Homo sapiens: one gene and its partner. The protein of the gene in region 2 interacts with the protein of the main gene of each other region in a pairwise test. Each region holds a gene or a part of one and is shown on either strand. Other genes may lie near its edges.

Region 1 (3,746 bases), on a different chromosome or scaffold from region 2:
TTTTGATGTTAATTTTAATTTGGCTTTGCTAATAAAAACATTTCGGTAGAGAAGTGAGACACCACAGGCCAAACAAGGATTTGTAGGAGGTTCTGGTGGATAATCCCTGGGCTACCTTCTAAAAACTAGGAATTGGGGGCCACATCTTTCTTTTTAGTTGTCGTTTGCCTCGTCTTTTCTTTTCCTGCTTCTCCCCATAGGTGTTTGTTTGTTTGTTTGTTTATCACTGCTTTTCCTCTCTGAATCTGTTTCTCTGTAACACCTTCTGGCCTTCCCCTCACATCTGACCCATCTAGCTGTTAAAAACCATCTATCTGGAAAGTCTCTTTCCTTTTGCAACACAGCTCCCCATGCCCTCTTCACTTTCCTCCTTTTTTAAGGATTCAGATTCAACTCTGTGGGATCCCTGTTCTGCTTTGCAATTACCTCGAGTTCAGGAAGTTCCCAAGGTACAACATAATGCAACATAATGTGTTTCCCAAGTGCCTTTGTTAGTAAGTTGTTTGGATTCAGAACAGATTTTCCCAGCAAAAGAAGGCTCTTAGTGGTGTTTACAGTCTAGCCTGCAACATCTTACTCAACATACTACACCTTTGTTGCGTCAAGTATTCAGTAAATGCTGGTGGTTGAGTATTTCTGTGTTTACCAGGTTGCCCTTCAGCACCGTGATGTTTGAGCTGAGCTGTTCTCTCCCTTGACAGAGAGAGCTCTTTCCGACCCCCGCCCCTCCGAGACGGAGTCTTGCTCTGTCGCCCAGGCTGGAGTGCAGTGGCGCGATCTCGGCTCACTGCAACCTCCGCCTCCCAGGTTCAAACGATTCTCCTGCCTCAGCCTCCAGAGTAGCTGGGATTACAGGTGCGTGCCACCACGCCCGGCTTTTTGTATTTTTAGTAGAGACGGGTTTTCACCATGTTTGCCACCGAGCTTTTTTATCATATGCAAAGCTTCTGCTTGTAAAAGTAAACACATGATCTTTCTTTAGCCCTAGCTTCGCAAGTTGTACTTCTCTCTACACAGTTCAACTGCAAGACACCGCAATAATTTTCTGAACACTTAGATGAAACAATAATTTTCACATGCTGATGAAAACTTAGCTGTAGCCCCGGGGAGGTTTGAGGCACATTAGGCTATTATGGTCTATAGGATAAGACCCACGGAGTAAGGGACGTAACCTTATTAAAACATCCTCTGCAGAGAAAACAGAATCTCTTTGATGGTAGGGGACAGATTATCTAACAGGTTGTTTGCAAGGATGAGGTTCCTAGCTGGCACACAGAAGGGCGCAGTATTAATGGTGAATGCAAGATGAATGAATGAACGGATGGATGGATGGCAAAGGGTCACAGGAAGACATCTGGGCACACAACTCTCATTGCTTCCTAAGGGCCTGAAGTCTGAGTGGGAAGGACTTCACCTCACAGTATTTCCTTTTTGTAAGGTCACCAGGAAAGCACAACTTTGAACATTTCTGTGACTTCGTTATTGCTTTGCAGAATTCAGAGAGAACAATGCCTTCATGACATTTGTTTTACTTTGCATCTTTCTTCTTTACTAAAGGTGGGTCAGTGGAGGTTTTATATTTCAGCTTTGAAAAACAAAGTATCCAGGACTATTTGCCCCAGGAGGCCAAGAAACCTCTTACAAGAACCTTAAATATTGTTGGTTGCCTCTGGGGGCTGTCCGCACCCTCGGGTAGCTTTGGGGTTGAGGTTTCCAGCGTTAGGTCGGGCTTGGAGTAGAGCCTGCCTCCCACGGGGGTGGTGGGTGTGGGCTGCACTTCCCGCAGCCACTTCAAACAAATCTCTGAGGACAGAGGGGCAGAGGGACTGCGTTCTAATACGGAGCTCCGAGGTATGGCTCCGTGAGGCTTGTGGGTACTAGCGGTCCTTTAGTGGGCGCTTTTCCCTCTCGGGGCCGGCCGACCACCCACCTGGGGACGATCCCAGGCAGGAACGCGTCTGCAAGAGCGCTGCCCTCCCGCGGCTCGCACGGGCCCCTTTGAGCGCAGCTCGCGGCCTTGCAGGTTGGGGACGCTCTCCAGTGGGAACGTCGAACGCACCCGGCGGGGCGGGGCGGGGCAGGGAGGGGCCGCTGTCCCTAGGTCCCTCCCTCGCACCGCCAAACTTTCCTTTGGCTCTGGACGCGTCGCAGGGGTCGCTGGAGAGGAGGCGCTCCGCCCGCCCGCCGCGTCCTCCGCTGCTTCTCCGCGCCCGGCTGGAGCCCGGCGCCCGGTCGCCCCGTCGCGCTCGACCCCGAGGGCATGCGGCAGCCGCAGGGGCCCCCGCTCCCGGGCTCGGCGGCGCGGGTGAACGTGAGCGGTGAGTGAGGGTCCGGGCGCAGGGAGGGTACCCCGAGCCGCAGTCACCAGGGCGTGCGTCGTGGGGAGGCCGGGGCGCAGCGGCGCCTGCAGGGCTCTAGCCTGCGGCTTTTCGGGGTTGCCTGGCGTGCAAGCCTGGGCTCCAGACCCACTCCAAACCCCGGGACAAGACTCTCCCGGCGGGTGTATGGCACAACTTGCTCTTTTCCCACCTTTTTCCCCGCTAGGAGCAAAAAGCAATCTAGATGCAAAATCGGCGTTGCGTCCGCTGCTGAGGGCTGGCGGGCTGGGCGCAGAGGCCAGGAGAGCGCCGCACGGGTTGCGTCTGCCTTTGCACACGTGGTTCTTTCCAAACTCAGTCTCATTGCCATCGATGGTGATTAGGAAACTGGGGTTCTCTCGTGAAGCCTAGGGATATAACATTTTTCAGCCTCCAGTTACATCTGGTACTGTGCTGTGTCCGCTGGGGAACAGCTTGAACCATGTGCAGGCTTCTAGAGATTCGGGAACTAGTAACTAGCAACACTGTCGGGGTTGTTTGTTCAGGGTATGCCCCCTCACCACCACGAGACAAAAGTGCTTTTGTTCTGTAGCAGAGTTACTTTATTGCTTTCCCTCAACAAGTTGCAGCTACACAAAATTGCTTAGAAATTCCGCACGCATGTAATTTGAGGAGTGACTGTGAATATTGGAAACAATTTAGTCTTATTAAGGTAATCATTAAAATGGCCCTGAAAAGCATTTGTAGGTTAGTTTTTATTTATTTATTTATTTATTTATTTATTTATTTATTTATTTATTTTTGAGACACAGTCTCGCACTATCATCCGGGCTGGAGTGCAGTGGCGCGATCTCGGCTCACTGCAACCTCCGCCTCCCAGGTTCGAGCGATTCTCCTGCCTCAGCCTCCCTAGTAGCTGGGATTGCAGGCGCCCACCACCACGCTAGGCTAATTTTTTGTATTTTTAGTAGAGACGGGGTTCCACTGTGTTGGCCAGGCTGATCTCGAACGCTTGACCTCGTGATCCACCCTCCTCAGCATCCCAAAGTGCTGGGATTACAGGTGTGAGCCACTGCGCCCGGCTAGGTCAGTTTTTTAAACTGAGTAATTTCCACGAAATGTTTCCCCCGTAATTTGTTATTGTCATTACAACGCTTTTCTTCCTCCTTTTCCTCCGAAAGTAGCATTACCTGGTCTTGAGATGCCGTTTAGAAATAAAGGGCTTTCTCACGGTTCCAACTTAGTCTGTATCAGAGAATAAAGTAAATGTCAATTACAGACAGACAATCAATCTCCTCTTTACAAATTCCATGTACCGCACAACGTTTCATTAATGCATGGACTTTTGTATCGCTGAGAAGAGTTGCTGGATTTTCCATTGATCCATCAACAGTTGCTAACCCTGCTTTCCATGGGCAGTGGATCTGA
Region 2 (3,746 bases):
ATCTATCCCATAGGATAAATGTAACTTTTTTGATAATATGTCAGGCTTGAATCGAACCCTTTCAAAGAGCCTACTATTTAACTCTGCTCTTAATCTGGTCCTCAATGCACTTTGAATCCTGCCCAAGGGTTATAGTAGCAAGGCTATCTTGCCTCTGCCATCTGAACAGTCCTTGAATCCATCACTGATTAATCATGAGCAAACCCTCCTACTTCTCACGAGAGTTTCTCTCGGTATGTCCGACACCCACAGCAGAGCCTTCTTAGCTACAGCAAAAGAATACAGTAACTGAAAACAGCTGCCTTAATAGTCAAATATCAGTAATTCCCTTAACCACGCAATGCTGTACTAGGCACACTTCCATGCACTTTATAAAGAGTATGCAGCACTCACAAAAACCGGCCAGGTAAGTATTGCTCTGCCTCCTGCCTCGACCAGTCGTTCATTAGAAGGGGAAAAGGAGGCCAGGCGCGATGGCTCACGCCTGTAATCCCAACACTTTGGGAGGCTGAGGCAGGCGGATTACCTGAGGTCAGGAGTTCGAGACCAGCCTGGCCAACATAATGAGACCCCCCCCCCGCGTCCCTACTAAAAATACAAAAATTAGCCGGCCGTGGTGGCGCGCGCCTGTAGTCCCAATTACTTGGGAAACTGAGGCAGGTGAATCGCTTGAACCCGGGAGGAGGAGGTTAAAGTGAGCCGAGATCGCGCCACTGCACTCCAGCCTGGGTGACAGAGCAAGACTCCGTCTCAGAAAAAAAAAAAAAAAAGGTAAAAGTAGAGACAACCAGGAAGACGGGCAGAGTCGATAATTAATTCGTGAATAATTTAAAGTTGTCTATGCAATATTTCTCCTGAAGATCTAATGTCTAAAGTCTCAAGGGCAGACCTGACGTAAGTGGGGTGGGGAGGAGGAGAGACAGTTGAAAGTGGACTTGAAGAGGCTGGGGGCCCGCACGGGGGCGAAGGTGGGCTGGAAATGGGGCCCAGGGCTGGGACTGGGAAAGCAACGGCGCGGGCAGGCTCAGCGCCGCGTCTCCCTCGGCAAATCCACCCAACCAAAGGCACCGCGGCGTGACGCCCTGCACACCCTGCAGCCAGCACCACACAGGTCCCAGTCAGGCCCGGAGCCGGGCTCCCATCCACCCTTCTGTCCGAGACCGTGCGGACGCGGGCCCGGATACCAGACCCGGATTCCAGTCCGATAAGTGAACCTCAATTCCCAACGCCTCCGATACCGGAACCCGAATCTCCGAATCTCCGATTCCCAGCCCCGGTCCTCGGACCCGGCTCCCTTCCTCTGACCCGAACCCGGATTCCCGCCACGCACCTGCCTCCAGCCTCCTCGGTGGAGCCCAGTCTCCGCCCGCGGGGCAGTCGCGTCGACAGCAAGTACAAGGCGAAGGTGCAGCCGGCGAAGACCAGAAGGAGGCCGAGAAGCGGGCGCATGTCGGCTCCGCACCCCGGCCCGCGGGGCAGCCGAGAAGCTCACTTGCACTCCGGGACGCAGCGGCGGGCGGACTGAGCCCGCGGAGCACGTTCACTGACGGACCAGGGAGGGGTCCGCGCCGAGACCCGCCTCCGAACCAGGCCCCACCTCCTGAGCCAGGCCCCCGCCCCCGATTCTGACTCCGCCCTCTCTGTCCTTCGGTGGAGACTCCGGGAAAAACCTGCCTCCCAGTCTGCCCTCTCTCCGTCTGTCTGTGCTTGTTTTTCTACGTTTATCCCTGTCGCTTTCCCCACTTATTCTGCAGGCATGGCGCGCCCCCAGTGCCGGCTTGGTGCCAGGGCTGGGAGATCCGGGGGTGAATCGTGAGCCCGGCCCACAGCGAGCTTGCAGTCTAGAGATCAAGGCAGTCTTGTCCACAACCTGCTGTCACATAAAGCAAATGTAGCTGGTGTAGCACCAGGGGCTGCAATCAAGTGCGGTGGGGCGGCAATAGTGACCACGGAAATAATCAGAATTGCTTTTAATTCAGCTCCTACTATATTCCCGCATCCCTGAGCCTCACAATCATCCTCCAAGGTAGGTATTTTTGTCTTTCTCTAACAGATGAAAACTCTGAGTTTCAGAAGAATTAAATGACATCCCCCCAAAAGAGAGACAGTATAAGAATCCAAGTCAACCTGAGTCCAAAACCAGTGGCCCTTAACACTGTGTGGCTTTATGGAGGACATGGAGTTTAAGTTTACCTTCAAGGATGAGCAACACTTTTCTTCAAGCAGAAAAAGAAGGGAATGGGTGAACACGGTCCCAGGTAAGGCACCAGAATCCAGTTTCAGTGAAGCCTAAGGTATATGAGAAATAAGTGAGAATCTGGGGACAAACAAGAGTGCACTGAAGGCAGGCTAAGGAGTTAGATTTTTAATAATGTAGATGAGACACCAACAGAGGTGTTTAAGTAAGAGAATGATTTCGTTCCTGTTTTAGGATGTTCGCTTTGGCAGATGATTAGAATACGTGCTGACTTGATAGCCACAACTGTCCTGATAAGAAAGTACGCCGGCCTGGCTGGGCATGGTGGCTCACGCCTGTAATCCGAGGATTTTGGGAGGCCCAGGCGGGCGGATCACTTGATGTCAGGAGTTCGAGACCAGCCTGTCCAACATGGTGAAACCCCGTCTGTACTAAAAATACAATAATTAGCCGAGCATGATGGCATGTGCCTGTAATCCCAGCTACTCGGGAGGCTGAGGCACGAGAATCGCTTGAACCTGGAAGGCAGAGGTTGCAGTTACTTTCCCGACATTGCACCACTGCACTCCAGCCTTGGCGACAAGAGCGAAATTTTGTCTCAAAAAAGAAAGAAAGAAAGCACTCAGGCCTGACCCAGGACCACAGCAGTGGACATGGAGGGAGGAGGCTGGGGGTAGTTGGATTGGTATGATATGTCACTGAGTAAACGAAGGAAGGGACAGAAAGAGAACTCCAAAGTGTCAAAAGCCTGGACAACAGAGAGAAAGCATCCTTGTCCTATCATTTAAAGCACCTGTTGGGCCAAATAGGGAGCACCTTTCAGAATCCATGTGCACAAGATCTCAGCAATTCTACGTCCAAGAATGTAACCTACATCCAAGAATGTACTGGAATTTAATTCCACATCCAAGAATCCCCATAGGTAGCAAAGATGTATATTTAAGGGTATTCTCTCAGCTTTGTTTTTATGTTAGGAGATTGGGAACAACCTAAATGCCCATCAGCTGGTGACTGGCTAGGTTAACTATTCACAAATGGAATACTAGGTAGCCTCCTAAAAGAGGAAAGCAATTCTACATATCCTGATACAGTGTGGTCACCAGATAGATGGCTAAGATACAAATAAAACAAACAAGTTGCAGTGTTAGAGTATGCTATGTATCACTCCTTTTTAAGGACAAAAAGAGGATATACTTTAACTTTTTAAGATACCAAAGTATTTATTTATTTAAAATTTTTTTCACAGAATTGTTATAGCATGTAGAACCAAAAATTATTTACAAATGAAATTATTCAATGTCTGAGATTTGTGTCAAAATAATGGTATGGGGGTTTAGTGAGTAAGCATGTAGGTAGAACAAGATTGTCCATGAGCTGATAGTTGTTGAAGCTGGGTGATCACCTGGGTGTTTTATACTATTTGGGTGTTAAACTATTTTTTTTTCTATTCTTGTGTATGTGTCAAATTTCCACTTAAGAAAATGGGGGAAAATGGTGTCAGCCCTCCATTCCAGCTGAACACACCATGTTAGTTCATGCCCCATCACAC

The links. Proteins that work in one complex are often made in the same cells at the same time.
Region 1: the proteins of TMEM41A (region 2) and LPAR3 interact in binary tests that used the Homo sapiens proteins (3 or more experiments, as listed by UniProt).

The regions. Positions count from the first base shown.
Region 1 is NC_000001.11:84,891,588-84,895,333, reverse strand, and holds the start of LPAR3 (lysophosphatidic acid receptor 3), read left to right. Parts: upstream 1-2,127; 5' UTR 2,128-2,318; intron 2,319-3,746. UniProt on the Homo sapiens protein: Receptor for lysophosphatidic acid (LPA), a mediator of diverse cellular activities. May play a role in the development of ovarian cancer. Seems to be coupled to the G(i)/G(o) and G(q) families of heteromeric G proteins.
Region 2 is NC_000003.12:185,497,513-185,501,258, forward strand, and holds the start of TMEM41A (transmembrane protein 41A precursor), read right to left. Parts: upstream 1,524-3,746; 5' UTR 1,450-1,523; coding exon 1,331-1,449; intron 1-1,330.